Linked DNA regions of Homo sapiens: regions 1 and 3 are each linked to region 2. Evidence: fine-mapped expression QTL. A gene starts in region 2. Each other region holds a variant in brackets. All regions are shown on one strand. Distances are between the middles of the regions. Region 1 has its middle 38 kb from the start of WLS. Region 2 holds the start of WLS (Wnt ligand secretion mediator). Region 3 has its middle 23 kb from the start of WLS.

Region 1 (7,069 bases), 38 kb after region 2:
GTTAGACGCTAGATATACAGTAGTGATTAAGAAAAAACAGATCTGAGGCCAGTCATGGTGGTTCACTCCTGTAATCCCAGCACTTTGGGAGGCTGAGGCAGGCGGATCACCTGAGGTCAGGAGTTCGAGACCAGCCTGGCCAACATAGTGAAACCCATCTCTACTAAAAATACAAAAATTAGCTGGGTGTGGTGACGCATGCCTGTAATCCCAGCTACTTGGGGGGCTGAAGCACAGGAATTGCTTGAACCCGGGAGGTGGAGGTTGCAGTGAACCGAGACTGCACCACTGCACTCCAGCCTGGGCATGATCTTGGCTCACTGCAACACTGCAACCAAAAAAAAAAAAAAAAAACGAGAAAAAACAGATCTGGCCTCTGGCCTCACGCATAGCTTACAGTCTAACTGGGCAGAAGATCAATGAACAAGTAATTACACAGCTGAAGAATTTTAAGAAATGAAAAGTACTTAAAAATTTTGTAGTAACATTTATTGACTGAATAAATGGAGAAAAATAAATTGAGAATTAAGCAGCTTTCCTCCAAGCCTCCAGGGCAACAAGGAACACTCCCTTATTTTCCCTTTCCTGCCTTCCTTCCTCATTGCTTTGGGTTCACATTGGTTCTTGTGCCTGTGAAAGAGGAGTTAGATAATTAATCAGCTAAAAATAAGGATTCACAGTTAATGCACTTGGAAAGGGATCGAAAAGGAACTTGGCAAGATAAAAATACAGTCTTGCACTGCATAATGTCATTTTGGTCAATGACAGACTGCCTATAGGATGGTGGTTCCATAAAATTAAAATGGAGCTAAAAAATTCCTATTCGCCTAGTGACATTGTAGGCATCATAACATTGGAGCAAAACACATTACTCACACGTGTGTGGTGATGCTGGTTGCAAACAAACCTATTGTGCTGCCAGTTGTAGAGCACATATGATTATGTGCAGCACATACAATGATGTGCGGTATATAATACTTTGATAATAATAATAAACTTACTGGTTTACGTATTTACTGTACTATATTTTTATCATTATATTAGAGTGTACTCCTTCTATTTATAAAAATAAAAAGTTAACTGAAAGATGGTCTTAGGCAGGCCTTTAGGAGGTACTCCAAAAGAAGGCACTATTATCACAGATGAGAGCTCCAGGTGTATTATTGACCCTGAAGACCTTTTAGTGGGACAGGATGCAGTGGTGGAAGATAGTGATATTGATGATCCTGCCCCTATGTAGGCCTAGGTAATGTGTGTTTTTGTGCTTAGTTTTTAACTAAAATGTAAAAAAGTTAAAAAAAAATGATAAAAGTAGAAAAAAAGCTTACAGAATAAAGATAAAAAAATAAAATATTTGTGAACAGCTGCAAAATGTATGTTTTAAGATATGTTATTACAGAAGAGTCACAATGTTAAAAAAATTGAATTTATAAAGTAGATAAGTTACAGTGAGCCAAGGTTAATTTATTATTAATGAAAGAAAAATATTTTAAAACAAATTTAGTGTAGTCTAAGTGTAGCGTTTGTAAAGTATACAATAGTGTACAGAAATGTCCTAGACTTTCACATTTATTCACTACTCACTCACCAACTTACCCACGGCAACTTCCAGTCCTGCAAGTTTCATTCATAATAAATGCCTTATATAGGTGTGTTATATGATATTTTATTTTTACTGTATTTTCCTATTTTACAGTTTTCCTATGTTTAGATACACAAACATTTACCATTGTGTTACAATTGCCTGCAGTATTCAATATACTAACATGCTGTACAGGTTCATAACCTAGGAGCAATAGACTATACCTTATACCTGAGGTGTTAGCAGGCTATACCATCTAGTTCTGTGTAAGTTCCCTCTATGATGTTTGAATAACAGCAAAATTGCCCAAGGATGCATTTCTCAGACGGTATCCCCATCATTAAGCAATACATGACTGTAGTTACATTTTGGTGAAAAGCTTGTGGCTTACTTTCTTTTCCTTGATATTAACGTATTTGTTGTACAATATATTAAAATTGGGAATACAAAAGGTGTGTTTGTGTGTGTGTTAATCTTTTTAATCACTTTCTATGGGAAGCGAGATTGCATTTCATGTGCACGTGCCAATCTCTCACTGTTGCTCACTGGGAATGACTAATATCATTTTTCTTCCTTCTGGCCTAATGCAAACAAGCCACTGTGACATCCAATTTCTGATTTTTGGTCAATAGAAGGCTCAGATTTCTATTTTTGTATTGCCAAACAATTTGCAGCTTTAAATATTATTTTTGTTTAGTATTCACACATGATAATTTTTTTGGAGGTATCAGTCAAAGGCCAAAGCCTTTTCCACACAATACCACTGACCTTCCTTCAAAATCCATGGATGCAAAAGGACAGATAGTGGAGTGATAATTGGTGAAATAAAGAGGGAGTTGCTCCAGACAGGAGACGAAAGTTGCTGCTATTGAGACCAAGAAATGAAACCAAACTGTTTATCTATTACTGTATAAAAAGCTAACCCAAAAGGTAGTGGTTTAAAACAGCCATATTTTTGCCCATAATTCTCCAATTTGGGCAGAGCATGGTGGTGGCAGCTTATCCCTGCTGTGTGGTGCTGGACAGGGTGACTCACCTGGGCTGGAGAGTCTATGGTGACTTCACTCACACGTCTGGGGCTCCAATGGGGGTGGCTGGAATGTGAGGTATGGCTGGGCTTGTTTCTCTTTATACAGCCTCTCTGTGCATCATGGTCAATGAACTCTTTATCAAACAGCATCCTATTAAATCATTTGATTCTCACATTAATCTCTAAGGTTGTATCTTAAGAACTGAAAAAGAAACGGAGCCCTTTTACTTAGTCTTGTTTTCCCACTCAACCTGTATTTTTCTTGGAACTTATATGTATTTACATATTTCTGTATGCAATTTATTTACTTTAGTTTATTGTAGGTATTCTTATAAACTGTCCTAATTCTGCAGTACAGATACAAAGATAAATATGTGGTTTGTTACATAAATATGTTACTATTTATCTATCTTAAATCAGGCTCAGGGAGGTTTAGTGACTTGATCAAGGTTACATGCCTAACGCATGACAGAGCCTAACTTGGTACTCAGCTTTTCTGAACCTGTGAGAGCTAAATAATAAAATCCTAATCATATTATCTATTTTAGATTTTCTTAAACTCCTAGGTTATAGAAGGATCACATAATTATTAAACAGAGAAAAAAATTGAATATAGCAAATAATTTTTTTTTTTTTGAGACAGAGTCTTGCTCTGTCACCCAGGCTGGAGTGCAGTGGCACTATCTCGGCTCACTGCAACCTCCACCTCCCAGGTTCAAGCATTTCTCCTGCCTCAGCCTCCTGAGTAGCTGGGATTACAGGCACCTGTCACCACACTCGGCTAATTTTTTGTACTTTTAGTAGAGATGGAGTTTCACTATGTTAGCCAGGCTGGTCTTGAACTCCTGACCTCATGATCTGCCTGACTCAG[C/G]CTCCCAAAGTGTTGGGTTTACAGGCGTGAGCCACCACACCCGGCAGCAAATAGTTACATACCTTTTTAATTAGGTATAGTCACCATGTTGTACAATAGAGCTGTTGAACTTATTTTAACTAATTTGAACTTACCTAACTGAAATTTTGCGTCTTTTGATCAACATTTTCCTAAGCCCCCTACACTCTCTAGCCCCTGGTAACCACCATTCTACTCTCTACTTCTCTGAGTCCAACTTCTTTAGATTCCACATGTGAGATCATGTGGTATGTATCTTTCTGTGCCTGGCTTATTTCACTTAACATAATGTCTTTCAGGCTCATTCATGTTGTCACAAATGACACAATTTCCTTCCTTTTAAAGACCAAATAGTATTCCATTGTGTACATATACCACATTTTCTTTATTCATTCATTCATTGCTGGACACTTGGGTTGATTCCATATCTTGGCTGTTGTGAATAGTGCTTCAATGAATGTGGAAGTGCAGCTGTCTCTTCTATTGCACATACTGATTTCATTTCCTTCAGATATATACCCAGTAGTGAGATTGCTGAATCATATCATGGGTTCTATTTTCAATTTTTTGAGGAACCTCCATATTTTTTTTTCATAATGGATGTTCTAATTTACATTTCCACAAACAGTGTATAAGGGTTGCCTTTTTTCCACATCCTTGCCAACATGTTATCTTTCATCTTTGCAATAATAGCCATTCTGATAGCTGCGAGGTGATATCTCTCACTATGGTCTTAATTTGCATTTCTCTGTTGATTAGTGATCCTGAACATCTTTTTCATATACCTGTTGGCCACTTATGTGTCTTATTTTGAGAAATACCTATTCAAACCATCTACCCATTTTTGTATTAGATTGTTTTCTTACTATTGAGTTGTTTGAGTTTCTTATATATTTTGAATATTAACCTCTCATCAGATGTATAACAGATAATTTTACAAAGTAATATCTTATTTAAACTTCAGTTTACTTGAATTCCATTCAGTAAATACTTATTCAGCGATTACTCCATGCCAGGTGCTGATCTGTGTGCTTAGAACACATCTCTGAACAAAACAGATATTCCTGCCCTTGCAGAACTTACTTCCTAAAAGTGACATTTAGTAAACAAAACAACCAAATCATTTTACTGTGGGAAGAAGAATTTGCTAATGTTGTTGTGCAGAGATTGAGCAGGAACTTATAGTGATGATTTCATGGTATTATGAAATGATTTCATGGTTTTTTTGTTTGTTTGTTTGTTTGTTTGTTTTTTGAGACGGAGTCTCGCTCTGTCTCCCAGGCTGGAGTGCAGTGGTGCGATCTCGGCTCACTGCAAGATCGGACTCCCGGGTTCACGCCATTCTCCTGCCTCAGCCTCCCGAGTAGCTGGGACTACAGGCGCCCGCCACCACGCCCGGCTAGTTTTTTGTATTTTTTTAGTAGAGATGGGGTTTCACCATATTGGCCAGGCTGGTCTCGAACTCCTGACCTTGTGATCCGCTCGCCTCAGCCTCCCAAAGAGCTGGGATTAGAGGCGTGAGCCACTGCGCCCTGCCGGTATTAGTTTTTAAAAATATTTTTGTTAAAGAAAAATTCAACTCTGCCAATCTCTACTTAATTGAGAAATCTGTGTGAGCTTTACCCTTGGCTATGTCTCTTTAAACCCTTGAACTTCTCTGTCAATGATTTTTATGCAGATTCACAATTAAAATTCTAAAGTGTTCTTCATGTCCCCACCACTACTCCTCTCCTCTTAGGCTGACCCTGAAAAGACAGACTTCCAATGCTTCATGCATGGCCCTTAATTTTATTCTTACTCTTCACAGTTGAACACAAATATCAGCTTAAGTCCAATAATAATCTATTTGAGATGTAGATCTGCCATTTAGGGGATATCTTTTATTATGTCACAATCACTTTTTTGTTATGGCTTTTCACATATTAGAAGGGCAAATGCGATTAGCTATTCAAATAATAGAACAAGCAAAAATTGCTGCATAAAGATAATGATGCCATCCGAATTGAACCTAGGAATCCTGGCCGAAGGCACCACTAGTTGAGAGTTCAAATTCATGCTCATTGGGTGATGTGTGGAAGCTGATATTAATTTAGTACTTTGAGTGTCAATGTGCAATGTATAAGATTTCACACATTAAAAAAATACAAATTTGAAGCAGGGCACAGTGGCTCACGCCTGTAATCCTAGCACTTTGGGAGGCCGAGGCAGGCGAATCACGAGGTCAGGAGTTCTAGACCAGCCTGACCAACATGGTGAAACCCCGTCTCTACTAAAATTACAAAACTTAGTTGGATGTGGTGGTGGGTGCCTGCAATCCCAGCTACTCAGGAGGCTGAGGCAGGAGAATCATTTGAACTCAGGAGGCAGAGGTTGCAGTGAATCGATATTGTGCCACTGCACTCCAGCCTGGGCAATAGAGCGAGACTCCATCTCAAAAAAAAAAAAAAAAAAAAAAGATAAAAATTTCGAAATTTGAGAACCATCTTTATGAGAACAGCTCCTGATCCTGAAGTTCTTACAATTCAGCTCTGAAGGCCAGATAGATATTTTAAAATGTCAGGAAACAATAAGGCCACAAGGGGAAAAAACAAAGAAATGATACAAAATGATACAAGGACCAAACCGATGAATGGAGTAGGAAACAGGATATTTTGATGCAGATGATATAGTAGGTGCTTGATAACATTACCTCATTTAATCTTCATGACGATACAGTTTTACTAATTAGAATTTTGAATAACATGCAAGGGCCATTAAGGAAATTTCTTATGGACATATAGTTAGAAAGAAAAAAAACCAGTTTGCCTACCTTTAAAGCTCAAATGATGAACATTTAAATTGATTAACAATTCAAATTGCACTGAATTCAATTGAATTGAACATTTTCCAGGTCTTTCCAGTTTTTTCATAAGGCTTTGAAGATACCATGAAGGAATGTACCTGGAATTAGAACCACCAGATTTTGAACCCTGACTGTGCTACTTCCTACTGGTAACACTTTGCATCAGTCAGTTTCACATCTTCAAAATAGAAAGGACGATACCTACCACATATGCAGCCTATGGGTACATACTAGACATCTCTGTGAATGGGGTCAACAAAGTGCTTGGTTCACGGAATGCCCTGAGTAAAAACATGCAAGGTGAACAAGGCCCGATCGTTATTCCTTCTCTGTTTGAGGCTGGAAACAATGGAAAATCAACAGTCATCCCAGTCTGGTTCTTACAGGTTCAAGAAGAAGAGGAATAGTTATCCTAGTCTGGTTCACAGGCTCAAGAGATGCTTGAAACAGCTTTCTAAATGAGGTTTGGGAGTTCTTGTGGATTGCAATTACCCATCTTACTGCTGGACCTCATTAGCACATGTAATTGGAAACTGGCTCTGTATAATAAGGACAACAGGAGTCTCCAGCTCTGAGGCAATTACTGTGGTGTTACTCACTCTCCATCCCCTCATGAACACCCCAGCAGTTGCTCCTGAGACACAACCTCGGAAGCCAGGGAGAAAGAACCGAAATTCTCCCATTACTGTATTTCCTGTGGGAGTCTATGTGGGAGATTTTTGTTTC
Region 2 (6,780 bases):
ACTTTACCTTGACTTCCAGCCTACAAACTGTTCCTTCAACTACTGTCTCCGCTTGCCCACTTTGTTGCTATTCTTTCCTTAGTTTCCTTTGTTTTCCAGCTTAGGGAAGTTTGGTGGGAAAATTTTTCACTTACATTTTGTTGATATTTATTTCCCATATTTGGGTCCTACCCAAATTTTAGATTTAAGAGCAAAAAAAAATTACTGTTTAAGTGAAAGAGGAAAGGCTAAGTCACTGTTCAACATGGGCTAGATCTGATCTGAATTGGAGACACAGCCTTTGCAATTGAGGAAGGAGAGGTAAGCAGTAAACTTATACAGTTTCCTCCAAGAAGTGTTATACATAGATATTTTTCAAGGAAATTGGAATAAAGCAGTTTATTAATTGAGGGGAAGCTAGTTACAGTTAGCACCTGCCGCGGACTTTTTGAGGTTGTCGTCATTAACCAAATTCTTCGGGAAAAACAATCTTTGGCACCACTTACTCCAGACAAACCCTGTTTGGAACAGACAAGTGTTCTGACCCTATAGTCGCTCCAATGTCCACCAGCCACTCACGAGTGCCCTTAGGGCTTCTCCTTGGTGGTAGCATCCCAGAAATCCTACTAGTTTCAGAAGTGCCCTAGGAAGCCTACTTCTTGGATAATGGGCTCTGTCTGCAAAGCTAGGAGATCAGCCTAGAAAAAGAAACACACCAACAAACACCAGGAAACTATGTGTAATGGTTTGCTGCTTGTGCAAAAACCTCAAAGAGGATGAAGGTCAGACAGGGATAATAGGCCAATTTAATTCTGAAAGCACAAGGTGCAAGAAATTTTAATTATGGTCTGCCACTGAAATCACACAAGATCCAATGGCATCTAACTGCAACTGCTCATCAAGGGAGACAAGAGGTGTAATTGTAACCGCTGCATAATCACTGTGAGGGCACAGGGAAGGCTGCCTTCAGCTCCCAGCAGAGAAGGTATTAAGAGCCTCGAAAAATCCAATACGGGGAAACGAGATTGCATGTAGCCAAACAGAAGCTCCTAACACAAAAGCCAACCCGTGTGTGTGTGTGCGCGCGTGTGTGTGTGTGTGTGTGTGTGTGTTGAGGGTGAGGGTTCCAGAAAGAAAATGTGAAGCTGTTTGGCCCACACTGGGGATAAGAGATTGTTTGAAAACTCTGAACCCTTTTCTGTTTTGTGGATAAATGCACACAGAGAAAAGAGCACTGTCTCCTTTAGGTATTTCTCTCCTTGATGAAGCTTCACCCACTCTCCTTTGTTTAAGACAATTGGCTTGGATGTTACCGTGATTTACAGTACCAAACTCCCTTTAATTTGTTCCCATCAAACCCAAGTCTGGAGACAAAACGCCAAGCACACGACTGGAGGTGCCCAAGCCTGTGCAGCTCTGGCAGCGACGCCGCCGGCGCCCCCGGGCGTTTTCCCCGCACCCCACATCGCGTGGGCGCCCGTAAAGGCACGCGCGGAGAAAGCCCCTCCGTGGACTCCCCACTCCGCAAAGTTTAACAAAGCCGTGAAGTAAGGAAACCGAACCTCCCGTCCGCGCCCGCTGCAAAGTTGGCATTGAAGTTTGTGCCGGGATGTCCCAAATCTTGAGGGGGCGGGGGGCGCGAGTGTGCAGAGAGGCGGGAGGATGGATGCAGATGGGGAGACAGTGAGGGGAAGGGAGTTTTTCCGAGTGGACGGTCCGTGAGGCGGTTTTCTTCACCCGGAAGCCTGTTTGACTCAGAGAGGTCCGGGAGGTGCACGCCAGGGGAGGTCTCCCGGGGCGGGCGCTGTCGCCGAGGAGGCCGGCGAGCTGTCACCTGCGGGGGGCTGTGGTGGGAGCTGAGGGCGCTCTCCTAAGCGCCAAAAGAGGACGGGGACATTCACAGTCACCGGCTCTCGGGGCTCTAAGTAGTGGGGGAAGGGATATTCACGAGTGGGCAGGAGGCCAAAAGCAACACCTTTCGGATACGCTTTTCCCCTCCGACCTCTCCAACTTCCCGCGGCGCTGGTCAAGGACTCCCTCCCACCCCACCCCATCCCACCCAACCTCCCGGCCGACAATTCGGACCTGTCCACGGCAGAGCGTGGGGTGGAGTGCGGCGGGAAAGCAGAGGGCGCGAAGGTCGGGACCCCAAATTGCAAACCCTCAGCCCCTAGCAAAGACGACCAAATGCATTTACAACCGTGCAAGTATCTCAGCCTTGTAACAGAGCTCCGGGTTTGCGCCGGGCACAGTTCCCCGACTCTTCTGTTGTTCCTAATAAAGTCGATTACGTTGCCCTCCCGGAGCTGATTGGAAGGGAACCGAGAGGAAAAGGGGGGGAACGCGGGAAAAAGCGGGGGGGGGGGGGGGCGAGCAATCAACTTTGTAACCCAGCGCTTCCTCGCGCGATCCGTCGCCATGCTTAAGATTCCCACCCCCGCCGCCCCCCTCTTGCCTTTCAAGTGGATACTGAAACTAGGCCAAAACTTTTTCCCCTCCTTTTCTCTTAGCCACTAGACTGGATTGTGCCCCACGGAGCCCCATGGAGCTCTGCTTTCTTAAGCACAATAGCCGGACTAATTAGATCATAGAAGCAAGGCAGTGATACTGTAACAAGTAGCCCAAGAGGCAAAGAGGGAAGGGGCCCGAAAAGACAGAAAGGGGGAAAAGTTTGCAGCTCTCCGCACTTACCAATCAAGCCTCCCACCAGAAAGGCGATGATTTGGAACACGAGCAGAATCCCACCAACAATGCACAGCTTCTTGGTGCTCATGTTTTCTATAATTGCCCCAGCCATTTTTGCGCCCCCCCTTTTTCTTTTCTCCTTGAAATAAATGTTTTAGGGTGAGCTTTTTGCTCCCTCCTCTCACACACTCCCTCCTTCCTCGCCTCCTTTCTGGGCGCTGCAAAACTTCAGAGGTGCTGGAGCGCGGCGAGGATGGGACCGGGACGGAAGGCGCCCGCACGGATTCCCCCGGCGCAGCCGGCTCGGGTTCCCCCAATGCCCGGAGCTGTGATTGTGGCCGCTCCGCCGCCTGTGGACGCTTAAAGGAGCAGGGAAGCGGATCACATGACGCCGCCTCCCTCCCTTTCTTCCTCCCTCCCTCTCGCGCTTCCTCCCTCCCTCCCTCCCTCTCTTCCTCTACCCCTTGCCCACCAGTTCGGGGCTCAGAGCTCTGGCGGGTGCTGGCGCCTGGCTCCCGAGTCTGGCCTGCAACCTGTCTCTCCAAGGTCTGATGCCATTTAGGGGTTGCTGTTGATGTTAAGCGGGTTCCCCCTGCCCAGCTTCTCACAGGTTTCCTTTTCTGGTTTCCGAAGTGCGAGATTTAAATCACCGGTGGACCGCCTTGCAGACCTTTAACTTACGCGTTGACTTTAGGAAATGGTCCCCACCCCACCCCCAACTGCTAGAACTCTCTTTAGGAAAGAGGAGGAGAATTTTTTTTAAAAGGACCCAATAGATGCCTAAGTCAAAACACAGAGATGCGGAATAAAGTCTCAGCTCGACTTCTTTCTACCAGATTCCCAGCCTCGGTTATTGGGCACATACCCAGCTAAATTCCCCACGGCGCCCCTTGAGGAAACTTGCTCTCCAGCCAAATCAGACCACTGTTCGTTACTCCAGCACATGTGCTTCCACAGCCTTAACCCTGGTTATTGCCTTAAAGAGAACATGTTCTACTCCATCAATGTTAAACCTGATCCAAAACCAACTAGTGTTAAAAAATCTTTCTAATTTTCCACACCACCTCCATGCAGTATCTCTGGGAACTGAGCCCCTACAATCCTGTATTTACATTTTTACCTCCTATTGTAAGGATTTGTGTACACGTTTGTCTCCACCACTGAGCTGTAAACTCCTGGGGAATAGGGACCAAGTTTTTTTTGTTCTTTGTACCCCCCATGGTGCCTAACAAAATGCTAGCTCTAGTAGGTGCCCCATAATCTTTTGTGGAATGAATAAGTGAATGTGAAAGCAAGCCCACAGTTTGTATTTCAAAGGTCTAAAGAGATCTTAGTTGGTTTAGAGGGTACCTATATTAAGTTACAATGTTTGTTGTCTCTTTGTGAGAAATCATATATTTATATTTATACTTAACTTCCATAAAAAGAGGGGCGGGGCTCCCGATAGAGATTTCCTGCTCTATCAAGCCTAAATTTCTGGGCCTGGTTTTTCCATGTTTCATAAACTGGCCGCTTGGCCAGTACAACTCACCTTACTCAATAGACCCTTGGTTTGGTAAATACCCCACCCTGCTCCCCAAACGTGCAGTTTCTACCACCACCACCCACACATCTTGTTTCTTGTCCCTCCCATCCTTACACACCCTCTTCATGCCAAGAGACTATTTTTCCCAGTCCTCTCTCCTCCTCTACTCTGTTCCTGAATTTTCATTGCCCTTATAAAAGATGTCATGCAGGTTACACTTAATAGAAGCATTCATTTCTAATCTCCAAATAGAACAGAGACTTGTCAAGGACAAGCACCAAACTTTATGCATACAAAACTCCATCTCTTCAACATCTAATAGTTCTTAACAGTTCTGAGGATATACACATCATTATGTGTCACATAAGGATGTTTCAGTCAACAACAGACCGTGTGTGTGACAGTAGTCCTATAAGGTTATAATACCATATTCTTACAACACCTTTTCTATAGATATGTTTAGATACACAGAGTGCTTACTATTGCATTACAGTTGTCTACAGTGTTCAGTACAGTAACATGCCAGACAGGTTTGTAGTCTAGGAGCAATCAGCTACACGGTGTAGCCTAGGTCTGTAGTAGGCTATGCTACCTAGGTTTATGTAAGTGCCCTCTATGACATTTGCACAATGACAAATCACCTAACAACACATTCTCAGAAGGTATTCCCATCATTAAGCAATGCATGACTGTGGTTGCTGTTTATCTATTCTCTCATTCAACTCTTTATCCAAGTCACTTATTGAGCCTTTAACATGTTCCAGGCTTTCTTTCTTAAGCACTCAAGGATACCAAGATGTCAAAGTACTTGCACCTGCCCCAGAGGAACCCCCCCCCAGTCCAAATGTTATTCACTGAATAGTAATTAATTACCTCTACTTTGGCAAACACCAGGTACTATCAGAAAGGATGAAGTAGACAGAATTGTTGTCCTTCCAATGTCCTTCAGTTCAAAGTACTCAGATACCTTGGGGTATCATGTTCTGAGCCCAGCACTCCTAAGGGCCCATTTATCTTTCCTAAAAGTCATTTGTTTTCTCATAAATACACTTCTTCTCCTATTAAGATAGAATATAAGCTCCAAATTCTATTAACAACTGCCTCCTTGAGTGGTTATGAATGCCCACATACATTTGATATATGTGAACAAAAATTTGTCTTTTGCCTTGCTAATCTGTCTTTTGTCAGTTTAGTCCACAGACCCCCAAGCACTATGCATAAGAGGGTAGAGAAAAAATGGTGGGTTTTTTGTTTATTTATTTGTTTGTTTGTTTTTGAGACAGAGTCTCATTCTGTCGCCCAGTCTGCAGTGCAGTGACACGATCTTGGCTCACTGCAACCTCTGCCTCCTGAGCTCAAGCAATTCTCCTGCCTCAGCCTCCTGTGTAGCTGGGATTACAGGTGCCCACCACCACATCTAGCTAATTTTTGTATTTTTAGTAGAAATGGGGTTTCGCCATGTTGGCTAGGCTGGTCTTGAACTCCTGACCTCAGGTGATCCACCCACCTCTGCTCCCAAAGTGCTGGGATTACAGGTGTGAGCTACCACGCCTGGCCCCCGTCCACTTCAAATATAAACTGGATCCATAAAAAATGTCTGGAGTGGTAGAAGTGATTTATTCAGATTAGTGAACTCCTTGACTTAGTTTTTAATGAGCTGCTACAATACACCCCACCCCCTCTGCTCTGAAATGCATCTCTGCAGAGTAACTAGCCTAACTCCTTAGGTTTCAGTTTTCTCATCTGTAAATGAGTTGCTGGTTCTCCACCAAGATGATCCCCTGCTTTAAAAGAGCACTTATTAAATAGTTATTTTAATTAAAAAGGGATATTTCTAATTGCTAATCAGTACTTCTGTCATGAGATTACCAATAATGCCCAACTTGGTGGGATGTAGACACCTGTAGTATTCATCACCATGGGCTGCTTTAAAAAAATTGAATTTCTATCACATCTTTTTAAACATTAAAAGTGACTGTGAATCTTTATTTCCCAAGCGGACAACACAGGTGAATAGAAAAGAACATGACAGTTAGAGTCAGCTGGATCTGGTTTGGAACCCAGATCCCATCTGCCCCTTGTTTCATGTGATTATAGGCCATTATGCAGTTACTTACCACCTCTGAGGCTTCACAGACCAACTCTGAGGCTTCTGTAAAACCTTCACTCTTTACAGAAGAGTTTTCCCTTCCGTAAAATGGGAATAATAGTACTATTTCATGGTATTCTTGTAAGATATGAATATTTATTATTATATTTAGGAAACTAAGGGAAATCAATAATTTTGTGTTTAAAAACTAGTAAAACTAGTAAAACTGATGACTGATTATTGCTCAGCTCTAAAATTTTTATCATATTGTGATTACTGTTTGAAGCATATGTTAGGAGAAGTCTAGGTGGTTAACTTTACTTGACAAGTGTGTTAATAAGGACAACATCTAGAATTGAACTTTGACAATACTCAGTGGTTTTTAACATAGAAACATCTGTTCTAAAAACTTCCAGCTGCCAAGGAAATGTTTGTTTTGAGTCATTGTCATTAGGTAGATTATCCCAGAGACTGAAATGATCCAAGGGCAAATCCAACTCTG
Region 3 (7,069 bases), 22 kb after region 2:
TTTATTACTTTTATACCCAAACACAGAAAATTCCAGTGCTATTATAAAAAGTATTAAATTTTTTTTATTTTCTAGTTGTGTAGTACATATAAATAAAATTGATTTTCTATATCAACCTTCTATCCACTGACCTTACAAAATAAATGTATTCTTATAATTTGTTTGTAGATTTTTTCAATTTTTTTACATAAACAATCATGTCATATATGAACAATAATAATTTTACTTCTGTTTCCAAACTTTATAGCTTTCATTTTGTTTGCTTGCTTTATTGTATTGGTGAATTTCTCTAGTACAATCTAGAATTGAAATCACCATTATTATTTGATATTTATTTTGGAGATGCTAGCCATTGCAACTGAAGAAGAGAATAAAAAGAGAAACAAGAAGGAAACAAACTTAGAATTATGTGTGATTGATACAATTATAAATCTAAAAATTCAAATAAAAATAATTCAAGCAATAATAAAGCTAATCACAATAATTAAAAGTCAATTACTTGGCTGGATGTGGTGCCTCATGCCTGTAATCCCAGCACTTTGGGAGACTGAGGCAGGTGGATCATGTGAGGTCAGGAGTTTGAGACCAGCCAGGCCAACATGGTGAAACCCCACCTCTACTAAAACTACAAAAAATTAGCCGGGCGTGGTGGTGCGCACCTGTAGTCCTGGTTACTTGGGGGACTGAGACAGGAGAATTGCTTGAACCTGGGAGGTGGAGGTTGCAGTGAGCCAAGATTGCGCCACTGCACTCCAGCCTGGGCGACTGAGTGAGACTCCATCTCAAAAAAAAAAAAAAAAAAAAAGTCCAGTACTTTACTTTAGAATAATGATTATCTGCTAGAAAGTAGAATGGAGAAGAATATCTCATTCACAATAACTATTCTAGGAATGAATCTAATAAGAAAGCATGAAAATTTAAAATTTCACTGAGTCAAAATTTTTAAAAATGAGTTAAATGAAAAGACATCTTTTGTTTGGATAGATGAATCTATCTATCTATCTATCTATCTATCTATCTATCTATCTATCATCTATCTATCTATCTATCTATCTATCTATCTATATCTATCATCTATCTATCTATATCTGTCTATCTACCTACCTACCTATCTATTTTTTAGTGGGATTAAGTGGTTTATTCAAAGTTATCTGATTAGTAACATTTTTCTAAAGTTTATGTTCCTATGTTACTTCTCTGCATACAATTTTTTTTTTTACTTTAAGTTCTGGGGTACACGTGCAAAATGTGCAGTTTTGTTACATAGGTATACACGTGCTATGGTGGTTTGCTGCACCTATCAACCCGTCATCTACGTTAGGCATTTCTTCTAATGCTATCCCTCCCCTAGCCCCCCACCCCCCAACAGGCCCAGATGTCTGGATGTGTGGTGTTCCCTTCCCTTGTGTCCATGTGTTCTCCTTGTTCAACTCCCACTTATGAGTGAGAACATGCGGTGTTTGATTTTCTGTTCTTGTGATAATTTGCTGAGAATGATGGTTTCCATCTGATGAATCAATATTTTGAAAGAGTTATTTTTGAATTAATCTAAACTATAAAGCAATTCCTATCAAAAATATAAACAAAGTTTTTTGAAGATTTTTGAAATTTGAATGAAATGATGCTAAAATTTATATGACAAAATAAACACGTAGGAAAATATTTGAAAAGAGAAGAATCATGAGGTGGGTTGAGTACATCAGATAAAGTGTTGCTTTAAAGTATCTGAACTTTCTTTCTGACCACAAATAAACAAAAAAGATCAATGAGATAGATGAACAAATCCATAAATAATCTGGAGTAATTATCTGAGTTTAATAATAAAATGATAAAAGTCACATTTTTAATAAATGAGAAAAATATAAATTATTAAATAAATAATGTTGGTAATACTGATTGAACATTTGAAAAACATAAACCTGGATTTTACCCTTCCTTCTTCTCTATTAAGATGTGAATAAAAGAAATCCCAAAATAATAAGCAAGAACATGAATAATACTAATCCAAACATAAACTTGGTATAGGAAATGCCTTTCTAAACTTATTTCAAAGTCCTCAAGCCAAAAGAAAAAGATTAATATCTACATTTTAATCTTAACATTTTCAATTTCTATCAATTTTAACACTCTGCCGTGAAAAAAGGTCAAATAGAAGACAAGCACATATTGGGAAAAAATATTTGCAACAAATACGACAAGGCACCTTAATATAAAAAAAATTCTTCCAAATAAGTAAATAAAAGGTAAGGCTGAGCATGGTGGCTCAAACCTGTAATCCCAGCACTTTGAGAGGCTGAGGCTGGAGCATTCCTTGAGGCCAGGAGTTTGAAACCAGCCTGGTCAACATAGCCAGACCCTATGGCCTCTACAAAAGAAAAATTCAAAAATTAACTGGGAGTGGTGGCATGTACCTGTAGTCTGAGGTACTGGGGAGGCTGAAGCAGGAGGACCGTTTGAGCTTCGAAGTCTGAAGCTACAGTGAGCCATGATTGCACCATTGCACTCTATCTGGGTGGCAGAGTGAAACCCTGTCTCCAAAACAAAAACAGAAACAAAGATATATAACCCAATAGAAAAAAAGTGGGCAAAGGAGTTTATGGAAAAAATATGAGTGCGCAATTCACACCTGAAAAGATACTTAACCATATAATATTTTAAAATACATAAACTGAAGAACAAAGTGTATTTTTTTATCCAATTAAGAATATTAAAAGGTTATGTAAGCCCAAAGCTGAAGGGAACTATGCAGGTCTATATATTGTTGATAGAATAAATTATTACAAACCTTTTGTAGGAAATTTATCAACATCTATCCAAATTATTGCTGAGCATACTCTTTGACCCCCAAATTGAAATTTATCTTACCCATATGCCTGCAAAAGTGTTCAAAGATATGTCTACAGGAATTTCATCATTTTGCTGTAGCATTGCTTTGCTTTTTAAGATAGTGTTATGGGCTGAGCAGTCTTTTCCTAAAATTTGTATGTGAAAACCCTCACTCTCCGCACCTGAAAATGTGACTGTATGTGGAAATAAAGCTTTTAAAGAGGTTGTTAAATTAAGATGAGACTGTTAGTGTGGGTCCTTATCCAATCCAACTGGTGTCCTTGTAAAGAAGAGGAGATTAAGACACTGGAGGCACACCAAGGATGTGAGCAAACAGAGAAAATCAATGTGAGGGCTTAGAAATAAGGCAGCCAACTGCAAGCCAAGGAGAGAGGTCTCAGAAGAAACTCAACCTGCTGACATCTTGACCTTGGACTATTAGCCTCCAGAACTGTGAGAAAATAAATTTCTGCTGTTTAAGCCACCCAGACTGAGGTATTTTGTTATGGCAGCCTGAGCAAATTAATATAAACACTGAAAGTGAAATATTCTCAATGGCTATAAATGGAAGAAAATGTTACCAGAGGTTACGTCCGTGGTTACAGAGAAGGAAAAGATAGAAGGTAGGGAAATTTGATGTTTTAATTTATGCTTTCTTATTTTGTTTATTTTAAAATTTTGAACCTTATTGCTGCTGTAATAAAATAAACCAGCTAATTTTAAAAAGTGATAGAGAATTTGCGTCAACTTATAAAGTCCCAGAAATATGCCCAGAAATCTCCTTTGAGACCTACAAAGCTTCTATTGATTTATTTATCTTTGATTTGTCATTTTTTATGATGTAGGTTTAAAAATAAATTATTTATTTAAACTCTTTTGTTTGGTTCAGTTGCTGGTGATTCAGCAATTTTCTATTGTTCTTCTTTCATAATCTTTGGGTTTATTTCAT[C/T]TTCCTTCCAAAACTTAAGAAACCATGATTTCGTCACTCAAGGATCACATTGGGACATCGGAAAAGTCCTCCAGGTGAAGTTGAGTTATTTATTTCTGAAGAAGACATCAACCAACCTACTGTAATATGAAACAAGTAATAACCATTCGGTTGTAATAGCTCTCTATTTTAATTACACTTTAGGCCAGAAGAGTTAGGGAAAAATATATAGTAGACAGCACTGTTATTGGGCAATGTTCCACTTTAAACACAAATCCACAGCCGTACTTCAAATCTTCTTAGATACATGATTCTCAGATAGTTAAGGGAATAGAAAAATAGTGGAGTCACTAATTACTTGGCCTTAGATGTTAGTATAACTCTAATGCCAACTCTTCCCCCCTTTATTTTAGGAGACTATTGTTGAAGTCAAAGTAACTATCTCATTTTGTTTAAAAATGTGAAAGTGTGAGTTATGTAATAAAGAGACAATGGGAAGTTTGATTAACACAGCTGCAAACTGTTAAGATATTCTTTAAGAAGAGAACACTTATGGAGTAGGAGTGGATGAGATGCAAGAACTGAATGACAGAAAATGTCCTTAAGCCTTGGCATCCTCACACCTTTTCATGCTTGGCTTGCATTGGGTCTACAGGCTTCACTGATGTTATAATCCAATTGAATAAGCATTTCTCTTATGGGTTTCCTATGGATCCGGAGCTTCTGTTAGGTTCTGTGAGGGTAACAAAAGAAGTGTATGACATATATGCCTTGAAGGACATTAGGAGACATGTAGCAACAGTAGCTTTTGGCGGCCTTAAGCAGAGGGAACGCCATCCTTACTGAAGCCCTTGGTCTCAGGAGTAGGAATTACAGAGTAAAAGGACAAGAGAGGAAGGATCACAAGGGCTTGATGGAGATTTTCATCTCAAATATAAAATCCAAAAGGTTCTGAAAACCAAACTATCTTGGGGTTATTTATAATTTGTATTTATCCCACTGAATGCAGAGATATTCATATGTTTTACTGAAGAAATGTTAGTATATTAATTTGAGTATTTTATAGCAACACTTCACCTACCTTCTCCCTCATGGGAAGAAATATATTTCCCTAACGTTGTAAGGGAGGAAACCACCTCTCATATTGTCTTATGCCCAATTTCTGCCTCCAAAGAAAGAAAAAGTAAAAACTAAAGGCAGAAATGAAATCTGCAAGCAGACAGCCTGGTGCCACACCCTGGGCCTGGTAGTTATAAATTGACCCCTGACCTAATTGGTTACGTTATCTATAGATTACAGACATTGTACAGAAAAGCACTGTGAAAATCCCTATCCTGTTTTGTTCCAATCTAATTACCGGTGCATGCAGCCCCCAGTCACATACCCCCTGCTTGCTCAATCAATCATGACCCTCTCACGCACACCCCCTTAGAGTTGTGAGCCCTTAAAAGGGACAGGAATTGCTCGCTTGGGGAGCTCAGCTCTTGAGACAGGAGTCTTGCTGATGCCCCTGGCCGAATAAACCCCTTCTTTCTTTAACTCGGTGTCTGAGGAGTTTTGCCTGCGGCTGGTCCTGCTACAGCTGGACTTAGTCATATGACTGGCTTTGGCCAATGGAATGTGAGGGGAGCTGATGAGAGCAGAGGCATTAAATGTGCTGATGAGATTTGAGTTTTTTGGGTCTTTGGCCTTCCCATTATTCACCATGAGAAGGCCTGCCCCAGGGAATCAGTGATCCTGAAAGAATGAGAAGAAATACAGAACAGCATCCCCACAGAGCTATGAAATAAGAAAAACATGGTTGCTTTTGTAAGCCATCGAGTTTTGGAGTGTTTTGTTATGATGAATTATTGAGGTAATAGCTAGCTGATACAATGCTTTAGATTTTAAAATGCTACCTCAGACTCTGCTGGGGATGTTACATAATATACAGTATGTACACCACATCTCCTTTGTAAACATGCTGTCTAAAATTTTTGGTACTTTTTATTGAGGTATCGTAGTTATACATATCTTGGGGTACATGTGATATTTTGATACACATATGTAATGTGTAATTATCAATCAGGGCAAACGGGGTGTCCACCACCTCAAATATTTATCTTCTCTTTTTATTTGAAACATTACAATTCTTCCCATCTACCTATTTTGAAATATACAATACTGATTATTAACTATAATTTCCCTACTGTATATCAAATACCATAACCTATTCCTTCTACCTAACAGTATTTTGGTGCTTATTAACCAACTTCTCTTCATCTCCACTGGTTTCCTTACAGGCCCTTGGTCAGCACCATTCTACTCTCAACCTCCTTGAAATCCATTATTTTAGCTCCTGTATATGAGTGAGAATATGTGATATTTGTGTGTATGTGCCTGGCTTATTTCATTTAACATGATGACCTCCAGCCATGTTGTTGCAAATAGGACTCTTCTTTTTTATGGCTAATATTCCATTGTGTATATGTAACATTTTCTATATCCACTCATTCAATAATGGACACTTAGGTTGATTCCATATCTTGGCTATTGTGAATAGTGCTGAAATACACATGGGAATGCAGATATCTGTGCAATATACTGGTTTCCTTTCTTTTGGATATATACCTCGCCTTGGGATTGCTGGACAATATGATAGTTTTATTCTTAATTCTTTGACAAACCTTCATACCATTTTCCATAATGGCTGTGCTACTTTACATTCCCAACAATAGTGTACAGCTGTTCTCTTTTGTGGAATCCTCATAAAGATTTGTTATTTTTTGTCTTTTTAATAATAGCCATTTTAACTGGGATGATATTATATCTCATTGTGTTTTTGATTTGCATTTTCTCTGATGATTAGTGATGTTGAGCATTTTTTCATATACCCATTGGTAATTTGTATGCTTTCTTTTGAGAAAAGTCTATTTAGGTCTTTTGAAATGTCTATTTAGGTCACTTTTAAATTGGATTATTTGATTATTTGTTTTTTTGCTATTGAGTTGTTTGAGTCCCTTATATATTCTTGTTAATTCCTTGTTGGATGGGTAGTATGCAAGTATTTTCTCCCATTCTGTAGGTTTCTCCTCACTTTGTCAATTGTTTCCTTTGCTGTGCAGAGCATTTTGGCTTGATGTAATCCCATTTGTCTATTTTTGCTTTTGTTACCTATGCTTTTGAGGTCTTACCCAAAATATCTTTGTACAGATCAATGTTCTATATTGTTTCCCCAATGTTTTCTTCTAGTACTTTTGTAGTTTCAGGTCTTACATTTATGTTTTTAGTCTATTTTGTGTTGATTTTTGTATATGGTAGAAGATGGGAATCTAA

Evidence for each region.
Region 1: its variant is fine-mapped to the expression of WLS in whole blood (INTERVAL, PIP above 0.99).
Region 3: its variant is fine-mapped to the expression of WLS in whole blood (INTERVAL, PIP above 0.99). The same link has a PIP of 0.9 or more in T cells, blood mononuclear cells and monocytes.

The regions. Positions count from the first base shown.
Region 1 is chr1:68,267,186-68,274,254 of GRCh38, forward strand. No RefSeq gene overlaps it. Among named protein-coding and RNA genes, the nearest start is that of WLS, 38 kb to the left of the region's middle. The variant C/G (reference allele first, on the strand shown) is at 3,484.
Region 2 is chr1:68,229,524-68,236,303 of GRCh38, forward strand. It overlaps WLS (Wnt ligand secretion mediator), which reads right to left and starts at 3,000. Exons shown (of 12, transcript NM_024911.7): 1 at 2,671-3,000. The coding sequence starts at 2,776.
Region 3 is chr1:68,251,683-68,258,751 of GRCh38, forward strand. No RefSeq gene overlaps it. Among named protein-coding and RNA genes, the nearest start is that of WLS, 23 kb to the left of the region's middle. The variant C/T (reference allele first, on the strand shown) is at 3,776.